3 separate regions of the Homo sapiens genome follow, and all the other regions are linked to region 1. The links come from fine-mapping of genetic effects on gene expression. A gene starts in region 1. Each other region holds a variant in brackets. All regions are shown on one strand. Distances are between the middles of the regions. Region 1 holds the start of MFHAS1 (multifunctional ROCO family signaling regulator 1). Region 2 overlaps MFHAS1 (multifunctional ROCO family signaling regulator 1). Region 3 overlaps MFHAS1 (multifunctional ROCO family signaling regulator 1).

Region 1 (8,184 bases):
AAAAAAAAAAACAAAAAACCCCAGACAACTAGTCCTGGAATTCTTCCACTTGCTTATGATGGTTTAAAAAAAGAAAACGAAAAAAAAGTCTACTGGAAAACACTCTCCAGAAAACTCTTAGCTTTCTGTCCCTTCCGTCTCAATTATTAAGCACTGCCAGAAAGCTTCATTTGCTTAACACTTACCAAAAAACAAACCTTAAGACGTCTATAAAACTCGAAACTGCCAGGAAATTCCCGAGGAAACGCCCCTCAAAGATTTCAGTCATCTATCTTCCATGTCCCTGAGTGGGCGGAGGGGAGCAGCAGCCCCAGGATTTAGTCATGCATTACAGTCTGAAATTTCTGTCTTTACTCATCCATTGTTCACTCCAATTACAAAAGATTTTCTCTGGAATTTCTTAAGAAAAGTGAGCAGTAATTTTTACTTTCTAATTACATTCTGAATGTAAGCAGAGTGCTTAAATGCTTGAGGGGATGGATACCGCATTTTACAATCTGATTTCTATGCATTGCATGCCTGTATCAAAACATCTCATGCACCCCACAAATATACAAACCTATGTACTCACGAAAATTTAAGTTTTTTAAAAAATTGTGACACTGGACACTTGAAACTCAAACTCATCTACCCCTTTGAGACGTGTCTAATGAACACTTTAGCCAACGATCAGTAAGAGGCTAACATCGGACACTGTCCAGAATCTATCTGTTCAACCACCTGAAATTTCCTTCCACCAAATGTGGGCTACATCGACAAGAGGGGAAAGGAGATGGCAAATGTTGTGACTGGAACCCATTTTGGAAGTCTGAGTCTGTTAGGAGAGGATGACACTTGTGACTGCATTTCATAAGGCTCAGGTACTTACTACCTTTTGCTCATCTCCAAATCTCCCTGTGTTTCCCTTACGAAGCTTTCCTGGAGAACCCGTGAAGTTAAACAAACATTCTGCCAAATGACAACCAAGTATCTCCAAAAACATATCTTACAGCATACCACAGAAGAACTTCTCCCTCTCTCCACTTACCTGGAAAAGCATGTGGATTGGGCGATCCTCTCTTAAGGCACTTAGAACAGAGAATGTGCACGGTGTAGTGCAGTCCAGGCCATTCCTGAAGTAGGACATTCAGTTCCTCCACCAAGGGGGTTATGGCTTGCCATGCGGTCCATATATTTGGTAATGATGCATGGCTAGCAATGGACAGGGTGTCTGGCTGCAGGACTCCCCTGGCAGGTCTGTAACTCACAACCACAGGAACTTTCCCTCTATAGGCAAAGATCTGAAATTTACCATCCGACCTGTGCACCACATGGCTGTTGATCTGGACACTGTAGCGTGCAAACAACCCAAGTGGAAAAGTAAAAGGAAAGCTATATTCAATCTGCAACTGCTCAGCCACAAAAGACTGCCCAGCTAGGTTGGTCCCATTAATCCAGGCTTCTGCATGGGGCACCTCGTTCTGCACATAGCATGGGAACTTGTACCAAGCTGTGGACCCATTCAAAGGCTTGCCCTTGGGTTTATTGAGGCAGTAACAGAGTCCCATCTTCTCCAGCAGCTCCAGCAACAGCTGCAAGTCCTGCTGGGCCTGGACATGAGGCTTAAGCAGCAACCGAATGACATGAGCTGGCAAGAGCCCATGCAACAGAAAGCCCTCCACATACTGATGGAGCTGGGTGGCCCGGAGCAGTTCCTGGCTGGGGGTGGACCGCGCCATGGGCGGGGAGCTTTCCCCCTCCGCCTTGCCCTCTCCACTGGTCCCTAGGAGCAGCTTATGCAGCAGCAAAGAGGGATCCCTCTGGAAGAAGACATTGAGGATGTCGATGAGGCGGGTGAGGTTGTGGAAGACGTGCTCCTTGAGAGCCGGACTGTCCTCAAAGTAGAGTAGCTTGCCGCTCTCATGCAGGTAGGAGAGGGCACTCTGCAGTCGGTCCTCGGTCAGACCCGCCTGCAGGCCCAAGCGCGCCGAGTCCCACCAGCTTAGCCACAGTCGCTGGGCCTGAGGTGGCTGGAAATGCAGTTCCTCCAGCACCTGCCAGGATCGAGGCAGTACTCTGTGTAAGTTGGGGAAGATCTCTCGGTGCTCAGCAACTGACAGCAACTTGTCCCGAAGGCGTCGTAAGTGGCGCGGGTCCCTGCAGCTAACAGGCAACACGGGGGAGAGGATCTGCAGCCGGTGGTTGAGCAGGTATTGAAAATGGGCCTTGCGCCGTCGAAGGTTCTTGTCCGAAACGCCATAGTAGGCTGCGTGGGGGCTGGCAGAGCGCAGCTCGAAGTCCCGGGCCAGTGCCTCGTCCACCACCTTGGCCAAGCGGCTCAGTCCCTCCGCGTCGTGCTTCTCCTGCAGGGCGATCTGGCGGTGAATGTCCAGACATTTCTCCTCCAGCTCACGCTCTCCGCACAGGTCTGCGTGGGTGCCCACGATGCACACCACCGCGTGGGGCACTCTCGCCCCGACCCGATGCAAGAAGGAGCCCACGGTGGTAGGAAAGTGGCGAGGCTCATAGGTGGCCAAGTTGACCACCAGCACGTATAGGGCCCCTGGGGACAGGAAGAAGGGCTGGATCACCTCATAACTTTCATCCCCAGCTAAGTCATACACGATGAACCGCAGGCCCCGGGAGGCATCGGCCGTCCAGCTGGTCACCTCGATGCCCTTGCTCACAGGGGGAGGTGACGGTGGGTAGCACTTCTCCTTGTCCCCTCCTCCTGGGCATCCCTCCACTCTCTCCTCGGTGAGGCAGTGGCGCAGCAAAGTCTTTCCTGCAGCCTTATGCCCCATCAGGAGCAGCTTGAGCCGGGGCTGCACCGCCGGCTGGGAATGAGCCAGTTCCTTCTGGTAGGCTGCGATGTAGGGGATCCCCTTCATGCAGACCTCGTAGGGGGGCTGGATCAGTGGGTTGTCTTTGATCTTCCACAAACCCACCCGGGAGAGCTGGCCAAAGTGGTCGGGCAGCACCGCGATCTGGTTCCCCTGCAGCACGAGCTCCTCCAGGCCGGTCAGCTCCACGATGGAGTCCGGCAGGTAGCGGATGCGGTTATTATCCAGCCACAAGGTGAGAAGCCGGCCCAGGCCCGAGATAAGGGATGGCACCGAGGTGAGCTGGTTGCGACTAAGGTAGAGCTCCTCCAGACCAGCCAGGGGCAGCAGCGCGGCAGGGAACTCCTCGAAGAGGTTGGAGGAGAGGTTGAGCATTTTGAGCCGCTGCAGGCAGCTGAACTGGGCGGGCAGAGCCTGCAGCCCGTTGTTGTCTAGCATGAGGCTCTCCAAACTGGCCAGCTCGCAGAAGCCGGCGGGCAGCGTGCCAAGCTCGGCCCCACTCAGCCAGAGGATCTTGAGGGCACGCAGGGCACTGATATCCTCAGGCAGGCCCCGCAGCCGGTTGCTGGACACGTCCAGCTCCTCCAGGGCCACCAGCTGCAGCAGCTGCCGGGGGAAGGCAGTGAGCTGGTTGTGATCCACGTCCAGGGTGCGCAGGCGGGAGAGGCAGGAGAGGGAGTCAGGCAGGTGCGCCAGCCGGTTAAAGCTGACATCCAGCTCCTCCAGGTGAGCGAGAGCGCCCAGCTGGGCGGGCAGGGCGGGCAGCTGGTTGTGGCTGAGGTTGAGCTTCCGCAGCTCCCTCAGAGCACTCACCACCTCCGCGCCCAGGGCGGTCAGCCGGTTGTGGCTCACGTCCAGCTCGGTGAGGTGGTGGCCGAGCTCGGCCACCGCCGGGGGCAGCCGGGCGAAGCGGTTCCTGCGCAGGACCAGGACGCGCAGGCTGCCCAGCGCCGACCCCAGCCCCTCGGGTACCTCCTCCAGGCCGTTGTTCCCCAGGTTCAGTGCCTCAATGTCCCCGAGGTTGGCCGGCAGCACGAGCTGGGGGGAGGCGGGGGACTCGAGCGCGTCGGCCCCGGCCCCGGGGCAGGCCCCGGCGGCGGTAAGCGTGAGCTGGCGCAGGTTGCTCCGCAGCTTCCTGGCACGCAGGGCGGCGTCCCGCCACAGCCTCGCGGTCTTCAGGTTGCCACTGTCCATCCCAGCCATGGCGGGGCCCCGGGCCGACAGCCTCACGCGGACGCGGGAGCCCGCAGCTACATGCCGCGCCGCGCCCCGGGCCCTCCGGCTCCTGCCCCTGCCTGCCCTCCCGCGCTCGGCGGCCGGCGGCCGCGGGTCCTAGCGCAGCCAGCGGCCGAGCGCTGGCGGCTAGGGGGCGGCGGCGACGCGAGCGGCTCCGGGGGACGCCGAGCGCGTGGAGAGCAGCTTGCATTCTCCCTGCGGCCGGGCCATGGGCGCGCCGGGCAGCAGGGCCGCCGCCCGCGCGCCGCGGAGGATGCCTGCTCCTCCTCCCTCTCCGCCCGCCGCGCGGCGCCTCGGGGGGCCCGGCTCCGGCCCCGCTACCCTCGCAGCCGCGGTCCCGCGGCCGGCAGCGGCGTCGCCTCCTCGAGCTCCTGGGGGAGGGCGGCGCTCGGCCCGGCGGCGGGCATGCTGCGGGCGCAGGGCTGGGGCGCAGCCGCGGGGAGGGGGCGGCGGCGCCTCCTTGTCTCCGTTTCCCCGGGCTCGGGCGGGAGCGCGGGCGCCGCGTCCCCGGCGCTGGGAGGGCGCGATTGGGAAGCGGCAGCGCCGCCCGCCGGAGCGGCCCCCACGTGACCGGCGGAGGCGCCGCGTTTTCCCGGCACCGCCCCGGGGGCGGGAGCTGCGGAGGGCGCCGGGTGCGGGGCCGGGGGCGCCTGGCGCGGGGCCGGGTCCGCGCCCCGGACCATGCTGGGCGGGGAGGTCGTCCCAGCGGCGGATGTGGGGCTCCGGGGCCCCCCTGGTGGGTTCGCCCGCGCCTGGCTCTTTGTTGGCCCCCAGTCTCTAAGGATTTCTTTTTCTTGTTCTCTAATGCGTCGGATCCGCCGGCTTCCCTTACTCATCCTTTACCTGCTCCCCTGCCGCTCGCCTTGCATCCACGCCGTAGTGGAACTGGCACAACTCGGGGGCCCTGGGTATCATCATAGAAGCTTAGGACAAGAGTGTGGTTAAACAAAATTAGAACAGGCAACCATTCATTCATTTGGTAAATATTTCCTGAGGCCCTATTTCGTGTTGAACATGGGACAGGAGTAATGCAGGCTGGTCAGAGGAGAATAAAAAATACCAGGCAGCAGTTTCACTTGACTGGAGGCTATGGGCTGATAAGACCCTGAAAACCAGGGTGTGTACCAAGCTGGCTAAGACCGGCTGGACCCGACGTGGTCCTGGATTTGACCTAGGTTTCTCCTAGGCCTCCATTATACGCTCTTTAACATCCTAAGTCACACCAGTGCCATGACAATTCCGGGGACACCCATATTTGAAGTAAAAATGGGTGGCACCACAGTCCCGAAAAATCTCCACACTTTTCCAGGAATTTTCATGAATATTTCACCCCTTGGTTAAAGAAACCCATAAAGGTAGCAGCCCCAAGCCCCGTTGTGAGTGACCCTCTCCACAATCCCTTTTCCTGGGTGTGTACTTTTCCCTTTGCAATAAATCTGCATATTGTCACTATTTTCTGAGTTGTCCTTGAACTCATTCTCTGGATGTGTCAAGAGCCTGGACATTGGCTGGGGTCAAGGTCGCACTGGCTTTAGAGGATCTCCCCCAGCCCACCCGTACCAGAACTACTAAAAGACGGTTTTAACCCCCCTGGGGAAGGCTTTTGAGCAGGTGGCCCGCCAGCCTAAAGGAGGGTTGTTAAGATGGGGGGGACACAAGCTGTTTATCTGGGGTATCCCGTTTATCTTCACAACAACGCTGTGAAACAAATACTGTATCCCCATTAATACAGTACCTGTTGTTCTGCGGACTCAAGAAAACAGCTATTTTGGGAAACAGTCACAGTCCATTGTTCAACTCTAATGCTTATTTTTATTGCTGTTAGGAAATGTTTCTTTGAGCTCACATCTATGCTAAGTCAATAATTTCTCCCGAACTTATGAAAGTCTGGAAACCTACCAAGACTCCCAGTGTCACCTCCATCATTCCCTTCAGGTTGATTGATAAGGAAGCAAATAGTTTTCAGGGACCGAAAACTGCGTTCAGTTGGTTAAAGGCATCACTTGACCCACTGCAGCTCTCCCCGACATGCGCTATGGCTGTCATTTGGGGACCCATATTTGGTGCAGTAACGTGAGAAGTGTGTGTTTCCAAAAAGAGCACCTGAACATCTGAGGCTGGAAATCCACCCCAGTGATGGTTATCAGGCTGCAGGTAGTACATGCTGTAACTGGAGGATGTTCCCCAGTTCTGCTGGGTCCCTGAGGCTCTGACACCACAGATGAAATGTGAGTAAGTGAACAGCAAGAGCTGATCTGTGTTCACTCTGAAGGACTTCCGAGAGTTCAGATGGCTCAGGGTAGCCCCACCCACACTCCCTCCCAGAGACAGTCAATTTTACAACAAATATTCTGAGTTATCTAGGCTGACCCTTTTTTTCCCCCACAGAGGAGGAAATGGGCTCAAAGTAAGTGACTTCTCAATCAGCCATCAAAGTAGAGTAGAGGCAGGACTGCTAACTCCCCGTGTGGAATGTATTCCCCTGTGATCATCACCTGTACTCACACTGTTCTTGAGCCAGACCCCAAATTCTCCATCCTGCAGCTTCTTCTAACAAAAATATGAACTCAGCCTGGGTAAGGAGACTGGAGTAGGCATCACCATCCTACACCACCTTACATGATTATATCTCAATAACTGCTAACTGTTCCTCTTTAGAAGCCATCAGAAAATTATACTTCCTCCTGCAGAAGCTGAAATCAATTGAAAAAAATGAAAATTGTGCTTGCTTCAGCAGCACATATACTAAAATTGGAAAAATACAGAGAGGATTAGCATGGCCCTGCACAAAGATGACATGCAAATTCATGGTGTTCATTTATTTAATAATATTTTCATTTAAAAAATTATTTTAAAAAAGAAAAATGGCCGGACATGGCATCTCATGCCTGTAATCTCAGCACTTTGGGAGGCCGAGGTGGTGGATCAGTTGAGGTTAGGAGCTCAAGACCAGCCTGGCCAACATGTCAAAACCCCATCTCTACTAAAAATACAAAAATTAGCCAGGCATAGTGGTGCGCACCTTTAGTCCCCAGCTACTCAGGAGGCTGAGGCACGAGAGTTGCTCGAAACCAGAAGGCGGAGGTTGCAGTCAGCCAAGATCACACCACTGCACTCCAGCCTGGGTGACAGAGTGAGACTTTTTCTCTGAAGAAAATTATATTTTCCTTTCTTTTCTTTCTTTCTTTTTTTTTTTTTTTTCTGGAGATGGGGGTCTTGCTTTGTTGCCCATGCTGGACTCGAACTCCTGGGCTCAAGCAGTCTTTTTGCCTGAGCCTCCTGAGTAGCTGGGATTATAGGCATAAGCCACCCTGACCAGCTTATACTTCTATTTTAAATGTCCTTGGAAAACTGCACTCTTCATTTGTCAGGAGATCATCTATAATTTGCTTTATCTAATAAAAAGTACTGGCTAGGACCCTGCGCTAGGGGCTTCAAGCCCCACTAAAGCCCCAAAGCCTGGAGTGAATAAGTGTGCTGGGGGTGGCAATTCTTTGTGAGCCCCTCAGCTGATGCAGTCAATATAGTAGGAAGCCTTGTAAGAATCCTTGTCTATGAGTTCTTTGAAAGTCAGTATGTGAATGGGCACAGGGGTATATGCCTGTAATCCCAGCACTTCCAGAGGCTGAGGCGAGCAGATCATTTGAGCTCAGGAGTTCGAGACCAGCCTGTGCAACAAGGCAAGACATCATCTCTACAAAAAATACAAAAATTAGTAGGGTGTGGTGGCGCACACCTGTAGTCCCAGCTACTCAGGAGTGACGCGGGAAGATCACTTGAGGCTGGGAAGTGGAGGCGGCAGTGAGCCAAGACTGCACCACTGTACTCCAGCCTGGGAAACAGAGTGAGACTCTGTCTCAAAATACAACACAACACAACAAAAGAAAGTCAGTATGCTAAAAACTAGAAAGTCAAATGATAAAAGATAACTCAATGATAAAAGAAAACTCTATGAAAAGATATTGTGTTCCATATAGCTTTAAAATTTTTTTTTCTTTGTGCTTTCCACTTTCAAAGAAACTGCTTCGTAAAGAACTATAGAAATGATTCCTGGGCTGGGTGCAGTGGCTCACACCTGTAATCCCAGCAGTTTGGGAGGCCGAGGCGGGCAGATCACAAGGTCAGG
Region 2 (8,184 bases), 35 kb before region 1:
TGAGTAGCTGAGATTACAGCTATGCGCCACCACTCCTGGCAAATTTTGTGTTTTTAGTAGAGACAGGGTTTCACTATGTTGGGCAGGCTAGTCTCGAACTCCTGACCTCAAGTGATCCCCCTACTTCGGCCTCCCAAAGTACTAGGAGCCACCACCCCTGGCTTAGCTACCTATTTCTATTGTCAAGGTTATCCAACTGTTGTAGGTTAAATGGTCCATACTCACTAACACACTGGTGAAGGTGGATAATTACTATTTCCAATTCCCATGTTGCATTCCATAAAAGACACCAACCAACTCCATGAACACCTTGATTTGTCTTAGTTGTGTTCACATTATTAAATTACACTGATTTAGGAGCAAAAAATCCTTTGTAAGTCATGGGCATTGTATAAGGTTGCCCAATTTACAAAACAAAAATATACGCTGGGTGTGGTGGCTCACAGCTGTAATCCCAGCACTCTAGGAGGCCAAGGTGGCAGGATGACTTGAGGTCAGGAGTTCAAGACCAGCCTGGCCAACATGGTGAAACCCCGTGTCTACTAAAAACATAAAAATTAGGCCAGGTGCAGTGGCTCACGCCTGTAATCCCAGCACTTTGGGAGGTCAAGAAGAGGTCAGGAGATCAAGACCATCCTGGCTAACACAGTGAAACCCCGTCTCTACTAAAAATACAAAAAATCAGCCAGGCTTGGTGGTGGGCGCCTACAGTCCCAGCTACTCCGGAGGCTGAGGCAGGATAATGGAGTGAACCCGGGAGGCCGTACTTGCAGTGAGCTGAGATCGCACCACTGCACTCCAGCCTGGGCAACAGAGCGAGACTCTGTCTCAAAAAAAAAAAAAAATTAGCCAGGTGAGGTGGTGCATGCCTCTAGTCCCAGCAACTCAGGAGGCCGAGGTATGAGAATTGCTTGAACCTTGGAGGTGGAGGTTGCAGTGAGCCAAGATTGCACCACTGCACTCCAGCCTGGATGACAGAGGGGGACTTTGTCTCAAAAAAAAAAAAAGGAAGAAAGAAAAAAATATGTATTATGACTAAATCAGAACATCACATGGAACATATTTACACTAAAAATTATTCGTTGCTTACGTGAAATTCAGATGTAAGAATAGATGTATACATGAGACCCACCCATAAGCAACACTTTATTGTTTATCTGAAATTCAAATTTAACTGGCTATCCTGTTTTTTTGGTTTTGGGTTTTTGGGGTTTTGTTTGTTTGTTTCTTTGTTTTTGATACAGGATCTCACTCTATACCCCACGCTGGAGTGCAGTGATACTATCACAGCTCACTGCAGCCTCCATCTCCTGGGCTCAAGTGATTCTCCCATCTCAGCCTGTCAAGAAGCTGGGACCACAGTCGTGGTCCTCCCTCAGTATATATGGGGGGTTTGGTTCTAGGGCCCCCACCCCCAGCATACCAAAATTATTTTTTATTTCTTGTTGAGAGAGGTCTCGCCATGTCGCCCAGGCTGGTCTCGAACTCCTGGGCTCAGGGGATCCACCCGCCTCGGCCTCCCAAAGTGCTGGGATCACAGGCGTGAGCCACCACACTCAGCCGACATCCTGTATTTTATCTGGCAATCTTAACATTGTATTAGGACAAGCGGAAAACAGATGAATTAAGACATGGCATCTTACCACAGGAGCTCATTGTCTGGTGAAAGAGCCAGACCTGAACTAGAATCATACAATGGAGGATTGGAGGCGCTTTCCAAGCGCTTTCAAGAACACAGGGAAGGAGCAATTAAATCCTAACTGAGATGCACACTAATGTCTCCATCCTGCACAATGAAAATGAACGTTATAGAATTTATTCTATCATTCTATATATCCCACAGATTCTTTAATCCTGATTCATGAACTCGCTACAGTGTTTTCAGCCAGGCACGGTGGCTCACACCTGTAATCCTGGCGCTTTGGTAGGCCGAGGCGGGTGGATTACTTGAGGTCAGAAGTTCAAGACCAGCCTGGCCAACATGGCAAAACCTACTCTCTACTAAAAATACAAAATTTAGCCAGGCATGGTGGCAGGCACCTGTAATCCCAGCTACTTGGGAGGCTGAGACAGGAGAAGCACTTGAACCTGGGAGGCTGAGGTTGCAGTGAGCCGAGATCACGCCACTGCACTCCAGCTTCGGCAACAGAGTGAGACGCCGTCTCAAAAAAGAAAAAAACAAAAAATTATGCTTTCTGCCGTTATTTTCATCTGAAGCAAGTTACTGACAAGGTAATGTGAAGGGGGTTATAAAACACTGGCCATAACAGATTCAGAAACACAGATGAGAAAAGATGCTCAGTTATTTCAATGCCAAATAAGCCTCCTCACTTTTGTGCTTTGAAAGCGAGCGGGGACTGAATGTTTACCTGTTTCAGAACTACAGTTTAGAAGACGGTCTTCCCCATGTCTGCTGAGATGAGGGATTCCCCATGAACTCCTCACATGCACAGCTCTGAAAGTAAGATCTGGGGCCCTTATTTGGAAAACAAACTCCCTAGATCTTTTTGCTCCAGCAGCCAAAGGAGCTGGGCATGGTACAAGAGTCACTGGTCAGGTGGGGTCAAGCCAGGACAGTGCTGGAGAGATCTGTCCCGAGCTCACTCGAGTGTCTTTCTCATGGCACTGGGGCAAGCATGACCTGCACAGCCTGGCACAGAAACAGCACTTGCCCAGAAGATACTTCCCCGTATTTCAAGATCAAACAAAGTAGGACGCAGAAAAGAAAAGAAGCAAGGGAGGTAAGGGATGGTGTGTACATATTTCCTGTTGGAATTCCTCTGGAGTATAAAAAAGAGGGCCTGACAATTGCCAAACATATCAGGTGAGGCTTTGGGATCCACTGGTGGGAAACACTGAATATATTTAATATCCAAGACAATAATTCAAAGACTCTAAATTGGGAAATTAGCTTAATAGTATTTTACTTGCAAGGTCCTACATTTCAATATTAAAAATACTGACACATTAAAAAATGAAATTGGTCTTTTATTCCTAGCCTATTCATCTTTGCATCTTTCCCAGCACAGAGCATCCCCATGGCACTCAGCAGACCCCCATGATGTCTGGTCAATTAATGAGTTAATGGATGGTTTCAAGCCCATGAGCCAGATTCCTGTCACCGGCATGTATCAGTTTATTGCTGCACACGGGAAACCTTGCAGCCACAGGGCTTTGTTTATACACTGCCCTAGAAGCCACTAGGATTCTCTAGATCAGAAAGAGAAATATATTCTAGTTCTCATCTTTCAAACTGGCTCAAAACCTGACACTTTCACATCAGGAAAGTGAAAAAAAAAAAAAAAAAAAAAAAAAAAAGAGGAGAGATACCGAAAGAGCCAGGCTGTTCATAATTTTGTTTTGGAGGCAGTGCAGAAGAAAACATCCTAGAGAGGCACTGCCAAATTCTAAAAAGAGTCTTAGAATGCCAAAAACAGATTCAGTCCCTTAAGCAAAGTGGAAGGGAAAAAAGAAGCCTATCAATTCAAAGCAATAAAGATTTAAACAGAAAGTTCATGAGACATCAATAAATTCCGCGTGTGGCCCTATTGTTTAGTTACTAAACTGCCAATGCAACTTTCAGTGGTTAACCAACACAGCACAAGTTT[G/A]CTCCTAATTTAATATCCCTTTCAGATTTCTGATTCCATAATGAGATATCTTCCAGGCCAAAATATGCCAAATTTTTCTACCCTGAAACAAACCTGTGAATTTTCTGGGCTTAGGTCCTTTCTTTTTTCCTCCATTCAGCCACTGAAATAATAAGAATTCTAATTAAAAATGAGTTCAGGCCCGGCGCGGTGTCTAACGCCTGTAATCCCAGCACTTTGGGAGTCCCAGGCAGGTGGATCACAAGGTCAGGAGCTCGAGACCAGCCTGGCCAATATTGTGAAACCCCGTCTCTACCAAAAAATATATAAAAATTAGCCAGGCATGGTGGCGGGTGCCTGTAGTCTCAGCTACTCAGGAGGCTAAGGCAGGAGAATCGCTTGAACCCGGGAGGCAGAGGTTGCAGTGAGCCAAGATCGCACCAAGGCACTCTAGCCTGGGCAACAGAGCAAGACTCCGTCTCAAAAAAAAAACAAAAAAAAATCTTTTGTTTGTAAACTCAGTAGATATATAACTGTCCTACAGTGACATTGACAAGTTAACTTTTAAAATACCTAAAGCAAGTTTCCCTGTAGAGTTGGGCAAATTCCATATGCTGACTGCCCACTTGTTGATACATTTTGCTATCAGGAACCCAACACCACCAATTTTGGGGAAACCTTTTTCTAAACAAATGAGAAAATCCAAGATGATTCAAATAGCTGAGCTGAACAAAACAAAATGCTCTGAGACAATGACTGGTGTTCACTGATCTGGGTCATTTGCCTGCCTCCACGCCTGACAGCCTTTGACCTATCCCAAAGCAACAGCCATCTGTCTAGTATCTGAACAGAAATTGGGACGGAGCACAGGGGGTATACAAGGCAGGGAGTAGTTAAGAAGCCAGCAAGGGAAGGAAGGAAATTGTTTAGTAAGTGCCCACTACATGCCAAGCATTGTCTTAGGCATTTTTATATGCATTATTTTATTCAGTCCTTACAAGAGCTGTATGACATAAATTTTGCTTTTTTAAAACTAAGCAAGTCTCAGATGTCTCCATGTCATCAAAATCTAAATATATAACATTATTACCCTTTGAAAATTCTAATAAATGAAAGAAAATTTAAATTTAATATTTAAAATTATATTAAATGGCCCATCCAGTTTTGGAGCCTAGGAAGGGTTCAACAAGAGTGATTTATTTTACTAAGACCTAGAGCAACAGATGAGACCTATGTTACTGAAAACGATTATGCAATGCTATAATTACAACTATATTAAAAATATGCCTTTTGGGGGATACTCTCTTCATTGTGGCGATGGCCTCACAGGTAAAAAACAAAAATAGACAGTCCTCCCTCGGTATATATATGGGGGGTTGGGTTCTAGGGCCCCCATCCCCAGCACACCAAAATCTATGCATAAAGTCCTGAAGTTGGCCCTCGGGACCTGCATATGAGATGAGCCAGCCCTCCGTATGCACAGGTGGCGTCGAGGTGGACCCAAGCAGTTCAAATCTATGTTGTTCAAGGATCAACTACACTCATGATTCAGACCAAAATAGAAATAAACAAAGTGAAAATATCCGTAACAACAAGGATAAAGCATTCTCAGTCAAAAAAGACTATATAGAGGAACACAAGCCAGATATCTGTTTTATATTTCTCAACATATTTTCTGCACAATACCAGCTCCAGCGGATGTTACTTCTTACATATGCACACACATACACACACACATAAAGATTCTTCAGTCAATAAGTTTGAAAAATGCTTGGTTAAACAAAGCTCACCACGGCTGGTAGTGATGGCTCATGCCTGTAATCCCAAAACTTTGGGAGGCTGAGATGCAAGGATCACTTGAGGTCAGGAGTTCGAGACCAGCCTGGCCAACATGGCGAAACCCCGTCTCTACAAAAATTACATGGGTGTAGTGGCACACGCCTGTAGTCCCAGCCACCTGGGAGGCTGAGGCAGGAGAATCACTTGAACCCAGGAGGTGGAAGTTGTAGTGAGCCAAGATCACACCACTGCACTCTAGCCTGGGTGACAGAGCAAGACTCTGTGCCCCTCACACCAAAAAAAAAAGTTCACCATGTTTCCTAACTGTGGAACTTCTCAGAGGCCTTCTCATACACTAAGATACTTGGTGCTATTCAAAGACAGCTTAATAAAATACAGTTGATCGTTTAACAACACGGGTGTGAACTGTGCTGGTCTACTTATATGACAGTTTTCTTCCACCCCTACCATGCCTGAGACAGCAAGACCAACCCCTCCTCTTCTTCCTCCTCCTCAGTCTACTCAATTTTAACATGACAAGGATGAAGACCTTCACCGATGATTTACTTCCATTTAAGGAACAGTAAATATATTTCCTCTTCCTTACGGTTTTCTCAGTAACATTTTCTTTGCTCTAGTTTACTATATTGTAAGAATATAGTATCTAATATCTATAATGTACAAAATATGTGCTATTGACTGTTAATGCTATCAGTAAGACTTCCAGTCAACAGTAGGCTATTAGTAGTTAAATTCTGCAAAGTCAAAAGTTAGATGTTCAACTGAATGGGGGGTCGGTGCCCCCAATGCCTGCATTGTTCAAGGGTCAACTGTATTTTTTACTAATTTTAAGTGATATCTGGTATTAATCCCATTTTCAGTTAAGTGGCAGTTCAAACAAATTAAAATAACTTACCCATCAGGACTGCATACCTTAGGTGGAGGATTTAGGATCTGAAACACATTTGGCTGGCTCCAAAGCCTGTATTCTCTCCCATTGTCCCACAGTGCCACAAAAAAAATGGAAATAATTAATTTGGGTCTGCCTGCTCCCTCTCAGGGCTGCAAATCCTTCATCAAGAGTCAAGGTACGGTCAGAGGGAGCACACGCAGGCCTGAGATTCCACAGAAAGAGCACAGAACAAAAGATGGAAACCCATCCCACTCACACGACAGCCCTTCTTGGGTACACTCTCTTTGGTGGCAGATGCCCAAAGATAACAGACTGTGCTACGCGTCAACAATCTCATCTGACTGCTAGGTTAGGTCCATTCCATGTAAAAATAACAACAACCCCTGCCTTCTCAGTCCCCTGTACTTAATTATTAGAAAAAGAGAAGGAGAAAATACGCCAGTTAGGAAACTTCAAGAACGCCCTCTGTTCCTTTCCATTTTGCTGGCATGCATCTCTACTAGAAGCCTGAGAAAATAAGGCATCAAGGTGACCAACCTACATACACTTGTACCGGATTCTCTAGAATGTGTCTTCAGGAATTCCCCGGGGCTCTTCCTGTGGTGCTGAGAGTGGCTCTGCCACCATCACAGCAAACAGGAGGCTTAAGGATGAAGTGACAGCCGCTTTCCCAAATGAAATGCCATAACATCACCCAGACCGCCTCACTTAGGACTGAGGGCTCCACGCATTCAAGCAATAACTAAAGGAGAATCAGTGTGAGGTCATCCACTGAGTCATGCCAAACTACAAGACCTTTTTTTCTCTTGAAAAAGGGTGAGAGAGATGTTTGCTCTTGGCAGACAGTTCTAATTTTCATGCAAATTAAATCATTGGTCTCGTTTCCATTTCTTCTGGGCTCATACGCATACATATTTATGTATACATACGTATACAAACCCACAACCACTTATTTCATCACTATGAAAGCCCAAATACCTTATTATAATCACTGCAATGGACATGACAAGAACTGGGAGTTCTATTTCACAGTCCCTATTAGCGATTATGACAGAAAGTCTACACGTGCCTTTTAATTTCATCACTTAACGTTTCTTGGGCTGAGGTAATATCAAACTCATCTTTACATTCATCCACTGTAATTTCAAGTAGAATGCCTGAAAAGTGGTAGACATATATAAAACATCTACCGAACTGAATTAAAGCAAAATAAAACATGTAATGTAAAACAGAACACTCAGGCCTTGTGTCTTACAAAATCCTTGAAACTTCACAATCGAGATGTGACCATTGCCAAGTCTTTCCAATGAATTAAAAAGCAAACAAAATTTCTACTATACTTATGCCACGTGAAATTGCTGCTTTTGTAGGTCAAGAATGATTGGATATCAACAATTTCATGTGGTTCAGTCTAACAGAATATAATCAATCACACAAACTAAGGTAGAAAATCTGGATATATCTCCAACAACAATGTTCCACTTACCACAATATTCATATACAAAGGATATAATCACAAGGTATATACCAAATTAGTGTGAAAACAGCATGTTTCAGGACATCTAAGGAAATCGTATAATCAAAACTTATTTTTTAAATTAACAAGATATAATAAAGGCATTTTACGTGTAATAAAATTCACCAATTTTAAACGTAGAACTTGATGCATTTTGACAGATATAGTCTCGTAACCTCCACTACAGTCATGAGGTAGAATATTCCCGTCACCACAAAAAGGTTCTCTTGTACCCCTCTGCAGTAAATCCCTTCCCCATACCACCGGCCCCAGACCTGCTTTCTGACAGTGTATCAGTTTTGCCTTTTCTAGAACTTCATATAAATGGAGTCATACAATATGTACTCGACTGGCTTCTTTCACTCAGCATAATGCTTTTGAGAGTCATC
Region 3 (8,184 bases), 21 kb before region 1:
CAACATGTGTTTCCTACCGCTAATAAATGGAACTCGAGTTTTTCCATGGCCCCACTCAGTTGGAAGAATCCTCTTTCTCGCCTGAACTTCTGTGGCACTCTGTCCAGACTGACTTTTATCATTTATTATAATAAGTGGTATAGCGCACAAACCTGATCCATTTTCTAGACCAAGTTCCCAACGCACAGGCTCTGAGGGGGATTCAGTTGAATCTCCCAGGTGCTTATTCCTTGCTGCAAGGCCTCTGGAAACTCCTGCTTTATGAATCTAGAATCAATGAATAAATATCCTGACAAATAGCTACTTACATGTAAACTCTAGATGTTATCTCATTTCTCTACACTGCATGAGCACTGTGTTGTATCTTTCGGCTAATAATATAGACAAACTAAGTTAATGATTATTCTTGCAAAGATGCAAAGATTTTTTTTAATCTAGTATGAACTAAAAGCCATAATTAATCACCGAGAAGGATAGCCTCAACTTTTTTAAACTGACTGTAAACTGATTACCTAGTGCCACTCGGCTAATACACTGGAACCAGCCCTTGGTAGACAGATGTGCCCTTCCAAACAGATATGCACAGTAGGCCTGGGCTCATCCCAATTTGGAGCTACTCCCAACTACTCGGATCTTTGCCTTGGATCAGCCCAACAAATGAGCATCTTATGGAAGATGAGGCCGCTCACAAACCCACAATGAAATACATGGCTTGGGCCCTCTCTAATGAATTACTCATGAGTCAGGCATGACACCTGAGTCTGGGAGGCTCCTCTCATAAAGTCGGTAGTAACCTTAACATAGAAAGAAGTTATAAATGACTATGCAACCTTACAACTGGCTTCCACCCATAGTCATCGCTACTTCATATGCAAACAGCACCTCTGATATCTCACTCAGATTCTAAAGAAATCTTTGCTAGGGGAAGAGAAAAAGGGAGAGGAAAAAAAAGACATTCTCTGCTGTGTTTTACATTTCTTAATCCTCTCTAGTTTCGTCTAGAGTTTAGAGAAAGTCAGTGAGAAAAAAGATTATGGGCATGTTCCTAACCATTTATTTCAATTTCCTTTATTATTAGGTGGAAAAGTAGTTAACAGCTATGCAAAGCAGGTGCAGAGAGGAGGAGGAGGAAGGCAAAAAGAGGGCCGCTTTTGAGGTGCATGAACCAAGAAGAGTCGCTGCCTGCTCTGTGCCATCATGCAGCTGTTAATGCCACAAGGCTGCTCTCCCACCCTCCCCAAAGTTGATAATGAAAAATCAAAGCACAAACAAAAGCAATGCACAGAACAGGATAGCAAAACCCGATCATCCTGCACCAACCACATCTCTTCAGTGCATCTGCTTTGACCTCTGCTTTTACAAGCACTACCACTGAAAATAAGCTAGAACAAAAGCTGATTCGTTATGCACAACCATAAAGAACTCCGGGGCACGCTACATACATAATTCATCATGCCAAGCACGCGACAATCAGCATCATTTATCTTTGCGGTATTTTAAAGCGGTGACAGGTTACTAGATATTTATAAAGTCTCTTATTTCTATGAGACCCTTCCAAATTTAAGAAATAAAGAACCTTATTCCTCTGCAAATGGCACTGCTTACAAACCTAAGACTATATATCTCCTGGAATTCACCTGGTATCCATCATAAGAGGGTGGCTACACGACCCTAATAAACCAATTAAGCTAGCAGCCGTTCCACATCAGTCCTGTTGAAATTAATCTTATCAAATCACTTCCGCTTTCTGTTTTTTAAAACATGCTGCAGTCTTCTTCCCGCTGTGGTTAAAATTTTTCTTGAAACATACACTTAAATCAGTCATGCTTTCTGTCTAATGGATGAGGAAACCGGAGCCTGGGAAGGTTCAAGAGCTCAGAGCTAGGAGGAGAGAGGCCCAGGACTCTGCCTCATTAACATCCAAGACTCAATTGCCTTCATCCCCAAGGACCTACCTGGGGGCCTCTATTGTTTATTATTGTCTGAATTACCTCTAAGTGGTCCCTCTGACTCCATTCTTACTCCATTGAAATCCATCTTCCACACTGCTGCCCTGAGTGTGCTGACAAAATGGAAATTTGACATTTCCCCATTTGACCCTTCAGTATTTTCCTCTCACCCTCTGAAAAAAACCATCAGGCTTTAATTTAGCTTAACACCCAGATGCCAGAAGTTCCTTCTGGTGAAAAAGTGTTAGCTAGTGAATAGATAGGCTAAAAGTTATTTACACGGGATATGTACAGTGGTTCAACCTGTAATCCCAGCACTTCGGGAGGACAAGATGCACAGATCACTTAAGCACAGGAGTTCAAGACCAGCCTAGGCAACATAGTGAGACCCTGTCTCTACAAAAAAAAAAAAAAAAAAAAAAAAATTAGCCAGACATGGTGGCACGCACCTACAGTCTCAGCTAACTCGGGAGGCTGCAGTGGAAGGATAGCTTGAGCCCAGGAAGTTGAGGCTGTGGTAAGCTGAAATCGCGCCACCTCACTCCAGCCTAAATGACAGAGCAAGACTCTGTCTCCCAGGAAAACAAAAAAGGTTTAAAAAGAAAACAAAAATATTTACAGACGTGCATTGATAAATGAATAGTTGGGCTGCCAGTAATTTGTACAGCCCATCACACGTCAGGGGCCCTGGTTTTACAGAAAGTCCCTACGACTCACCTCCCCTGGAGACCTCCCATCCATCTAACCACCCCACACACACACACGTGGATCAAGACAGATTCCATCCCGCAGGCCTCTCCGAGCCCCTGGAGATCTTTTTCTCCTGGAATTTATTACACAGCCCTGCAAATCTCTGCTTACTGTCCACACTGCTTCCCTGGACTGCAGCTTCCCGGGGTCAAGGCCTTGCTCCCCTCCCATGCCCCATGCTCTGCCCCATGGCTGGTCACTGCCAATCCCCAGCAAATGTTTATAGTCCAGTACTGCAATGTTAAAAGCAACCATGTGCATTTCACACAAGGAGTCCTTACTTTTTTTCTTTTTTTGGTGACAGGAGCGTCACTCTGTTGCCCAGGCTGGAGTGCAATGGTGCAATCTCAGCTCATTGCAACCTCTGCCTCCGGGGGTTATTCTGCTTTTCATTCAAATAACTACCCATTTTTAATGGGTGACAAGCTATTGCCTTCCTGAGAAGCAGCACAGGGTGACAGCAAAGACCATAGGTTCCTGAGGACAACCTGGGCTCTGCTACATGCTGTGTGCCCCTGGCCATATGACTTAGCCCTCCTCTGTCTCCACTCCTCATCTGTAAACCAGGATGATGGTAATCAGAGCTAATGTTTACTGAGCCCTTATTATATGGTAAAAACTACTTGCAGCTGGGC[G/A]TGATGGCTCACACCTGTAATCCCAGCACTCTGGGAGGCCGAGGGGGCTGGATCACTTGAGGTCGGGAGTTTGAGACCACCCTCGCCAACTTGGTGAAACCCAGTTTCTACTAAAAATACAAAAATTAGCTGGGCATGGTGGCACATGCCTGTAATCCCTGCTACTCATGACAATGAGGCACAAGAATCATTTGAACCAGGGAGGTGGAGGTTGCAGTGAGCCAAGATCACTCCACTGCACTCCAGCCTGGGCAACAGAGTGATCACAAACACGCAAACAAAGAAAAAACTACTTGGGGACTTGACATCTATTCATTCATTTCCCCCTCACAACATCTAAGGAGACTCTGATAGCAGGTGTAAATGCTTGGGAACTGTTAGAATTATTTTTACCTATTTACAGACGAAATTGAGGCCCAGGGAGGCCAAGTGGCTTCCCAGAGGTCCAGGCCCCCGACTTCCTAATCCACTGATTTAATTACATCCAAGGCTCAGATGCATGGGCTCAGATGTATGAATGGCATTCAAGAAGTGCCTGGGAGAGGTTAACATACTGCTGATAAAAGATGCAAGGCCTCTTTCTCTAATGCTGGTTTAATATAAAGCAAGTAAGCTGCATGGCAATATTCATCTCTAGCTACAGCTAAGGTGACACTTGTTCTGTCACCCTACCTAGGAAACCGTATCAACTCCCTGAGATGAAAATCTGCCCCATTCCAGAAATGAGCTAAATCAAAGGAGGGAGAAGGAAGGAAGAGGAGGCTAAGGCAAAAAGTTATTCACACTTTGCATAAACATGCCCGGATGGCAAGCATTATAAAACGATCTGTGTAACATAAGCTTCTGGGTCCATGGGAGGCAAGGGAGCATGTGACTGTGCACGGATATGAACAAAGCCAGCGACACACCACCAGATTCTTCAAAAGCAAATATTTGTCTATGACCAAAGAATCGGGATTCTTTTCTAACAAAGAGGAATGTACACCGTTCTAATTCCTGATTCTTCCTCCTGCTTTACAGTGGGTTATGATCTCGATGGAAATCCCCCCATGAATAAATGTGTCTGCAATCACAAATGGCCCCATAAATCAGAAGATTTATGAACTGTAAAAGGGGACGGCAGGAGGATTCCAACCTTGCAGCTTCCTTCATGCGGACCACCTGGGGCCGGATGCATGGCAGTTTATCACTTCCTGGAAACAGTCATCTGGCTTTTCTTTTTAGCTAAGCAAGAAAATGTTATCAGCCCTGGTAATCAACAAGATGCAATCATCCCTGCTATTTGGGTAAGCTTTTAATGCCGCACCACATTACACAGAGGAGGCTCAGATGCATAGGCTCGGATGCATGAACAGCATTCAAGAAGTGTCTGGGAGAGGTTAACACACAGCTGATAAGCTCTGGCTGGCTGCAGTGAGGCCTGGCCCAACAGCCCCTAAGGCAAATTCCTGAAGGGACTAAATAGAAAATGAGTGGATATTCCCTATTCCAAGGGAAAAAATAAAAATAAAAAAAAAGATGGGAACAATACAGTAACCAGGGAAAAGCACAGAGCATGCACATGTGTGTTTTTCTTGGGGAGGGGGAAATGCATATATTTCAGAGGCTTAACAAATACATTCAAAAGAACACCTGCTCCATCCCAGACAGGCAGCAGAACATCGTGCAAGAGTGAGACGGAGACAACCGGGCAGTGCCACTCGTGAGCCATCTGGGAGTGAGGGGTGTCAGGGAAGGGGACAGATGCACCCTACAGGGCTTTGCATCCCAGTTCTTATTACTGTACCTTGGGCACAAAACAGCCCAGCTCTAGGCAAGCCAGTGAGCCATTTTTGGTATCATAGTGTTCTTTTGGAAAATTCACATTTCTATTTTTAGTTCTTCCACATGCAATTCATAAGCAATAGCCCTCCGGAATCAAAGTCACCTCAGCTATGCCATGAGTCAAGAGAATCCCAGTGAATATATTTTTTAATAGCATGTTCAGGGAAAATGTGACCAGCTCTGTTCGGCCATACTGTCTGCATTGACTTGGCAGTTAGCATGAAATGAAGGATTTTAAAGACCAAACACTTCAATGAGTCCTGTGAAAAAAACTCCCAAGAACCTGACTGGGGACTTTGTTAGCTTGAAATAAATATATACGTCATTAAGTATGTTTTAAACACAGAAGCAACTATAACAGGATTTAATTGCTTACTTTTTTTTTTTTTTTTTACAGGTCAAACACATTTTAGAGTGCTGGGTTACACCCACTCTTTCTTCATCACATGTACAGAAAGGCAAAGAGTGTGGGTAATCTCTTAAATTTTAAATTCCCACTTGGTATGAGGATAAAACATCCAAGAAACATTTCCTGTGCAGAACACACCAAGCTTAGGTGTAGAAAATACAACGGTGTGGAACTCGAGAGGATGGTTCTAGGATACAAATAAAAACAACCACGCAGCGCGGGAAGATTTTTGTTTAGAAAACAGATGGGACAGAAAGGCAGATGCAATGTTTTGAGTCAATGAGATACAGTTCGTTCTTAATTATATTTCATTGATTTCTTACATGGACAGAACATCATTCTTGCTGCCACTGTTTTATTTTGATCAGCGGTATATCTATCTGTAAACATGTACAATTTGTAATTATTGCTATGTCTAAACACTGCATCACGTGTAATGGCTGAATTAAGCTGTGAAATGCGTAATTATGCTGAAAACAATGGTGTTCCAATACACATCACCAAAGCCAATTTAAAAAAATTACCTTGTTTCAAATCACAAAGCGAAGCCTTCATAACCCTCGAGGCTTTTTTTAGGTCCCACCACTTTGATTTAGAGATTTGTCTTTTTCTAATTGCATCTCAAGAGTGTTCCGAGCACAGAGAGGGATTATTAACCCTGAAGGAAATAAAACTGAGTATTTCTTACACCTCTGGAAGGTGGAGAACGTACTTAGTTTAACAATCTGGAAAGGATCAAAGGTCTGCCGGTATAGGTGTGACTGAACAATACATCCATTGGTAGACTACTATGCTATATTTGTAGGATATACTATAACATTCTACACACACACACACACACACACACACACACACACACACACACATAATAATCTTCTATAACAGGGTTCTAACTGTTCATATGGAGGCATCTCAAAAATATATTTTGAAGTGATCAAATGCGAGGTGCAGAACAAGGAGTACAGCATGATCTCATTCCTGTTAAAATATATGCAAATACATGCTTTATTTTCCCTGGAAGAAATCAGCAAGAAACATTTTACAGAGGAGACAGTTTGGGGAGGGGTTATGAAAAAGGGGGCTTTGCTAATGAATCTACCATCCACATATGGATAGCACTTTTTTTATTTTCAGTTAAAGTTATAAGGGTGAAGAATCACTATGTGATTCCCGCTGTCACCTCTGTATTTAGAAAAATGTTATGAGGTTTTTTTAAGCTCTAGAAGAAATCACAGAGGAAGCTATTAATATACTGAATGAAATTTGAAACTTCAAAACGTTAAAGGTTTTTAAAGCAAAGAGGGGAACAAGCTAGAAAAAAATGCCTTAAGTATGATAGACAAAAGGTTATCTTTTATATATGAAGAGTTAATATAAACTGATAAAACACTGTGATTAAAAAAAAAAAAAGAAAAACCACCAAGATGATGCCAGAAGATGTTATTAGAGGATTCAGAAAAGAAGCAACACAATTAGGCAACATTTATACAAGAAAACGTTCACATCCACTAGTTAAAATCTTCAGTCACCAGTGACATATTGTTTCCATTAAACGGTAGTGCATTTTATAGATGATACCCAATGTTGAGGAGGTACAGTGAAAAAGATCTTGCATCTGACGTGCCCATCCTCATGGGAAGCAACGTAAACGTGCATTGAGATTTAATGACATTTTTTGCCTTTGACTCAATGACTCTACTTCGGGGATTACTGCCCAAATAAAAAAGAGTTTTTATAAAGAAATACAGTCATCAGAGAATCACTCACAAAAAAAACTGGGAACAAGAGCACAAATGGTTGGATAAACAAAAAGAACACAAGGTTAAATAAACAAAGGTGAAAAATCACCTTGATGTACTATTATGCAAGCATTTTTAATTACTGTATAAATACTAATCACAGGAAATTATATCCATGTTAGCATAAGTTTAAAAAATCAATATTTGAATTATTTATACAATTATAACTACATATTTTTAAAACCTAAGCTTAAGGAGGAAACAAAGCTAAAAGACACAGAGCAAAATGTGTAGTGATTACTTTAGATACCCACCATGAGAAACTTTTTTTTCTTCTACTCTCCAAATTTTTTATGTTTTTTTGAGTCAGTCTCGCTCTGTCACCCAGGCTGGAGTACAGTGGCACGATCTCAGCTCACCGTAACCTCTGCCTCCTGGGTTCAAGCGATTCTCCTGCCTCAGCCTCCTGAGTAGCTGGGATTACAGGTGCGTGCCACCACGCTCAGCTAATTTTTGCAATTTTTTACTAGAGACGGGGTTTCACCATGTCAGACTGCTCTCGAACTCGTGACCTCGTGATCCGCCCGCCTCGGCCTCCCAAAGTGCTGGCATTACAGGTGTGAGCCACCATGCCCGGCCTATAAGTTTTTATAAAGGGGAAAAAGCATTTTTAAAAGAGCATAAGGTGTTCATATGAACAGAGATCATACTGTATTCCACCTCTTCTATGAAGAAAAGAGTTTTGATCCACAAACTTATCACTCTTCTAAAAGTATGTTTAGACTCTTGTACCTTCTGGAATGGTGGAAACAGCAGCAAACTCCTACTGAGCTCTTGCCAGGTGTCAAGCATTGTTCTAAGCATTTAACACATATAAC

The links. PIP is the estimated chance that this variant, and not a neighbour inherited with it, causes the effect.
Region 2: its variant is fine-mapped to the expression of MFHAS1 in whole blood (TOPMed, PIP above 0.99).
Region 3: its variant is fine-mapped to the expression of MFHAS1 in blood mononuclear cells (TOPMed, PIP 0.99).

Annotation. Positions count from the first base shown.
Region 1 is chr8:8,889,034-8,897,217 of GRCh38, forward strand. MFHAS1 (multifunctional ROCO family signaling regulator 1) reads right to left here and starts at 4,597. Exons shown (of 3, transcript NM_004225.3): 1 at 1,028-4,597. The coding sequence starts at 4,025. It also overlaps the pseudogene RNU6-682P. RefSeq lists enhancers at 1,097-2,057, 2,058-3,017, 3,018-3,978 and silencers at 3,823-4,092, 4,203-4,482, 4,493-4,742.
Region 2 is chr8:8,853,691-8,861,874 of GRCh38, forward strand. The region is part of intron 1 of MFHAS1 (multifunctional ROCO family signaling regulator 1); the gene reads right to left. Among named protein-coding and RNA genes, the nearest start is that of MFHAS1, 36 kb to the right of the region's middle. RefSeq lists an enhancer at 6,736-6,945. The variant G/A (reference allele first, on the strand shown) is at 3,609.
Region 3 is chr8:8,867,942-8,876,125 of GRCh38, forward strand. All of the region lies in intron 1 of MFHAS1 (multifunctional ROCO family signaling regulator 1), which reads right to left. Among named protein-coding and RNA genes, the nearest start is that of MFHAS1, 22 kb to the right of the region's middle. RefSeq lists a silencer at 538-832. The variant G/A (reference allele first, on the strand shown) is at 3,335.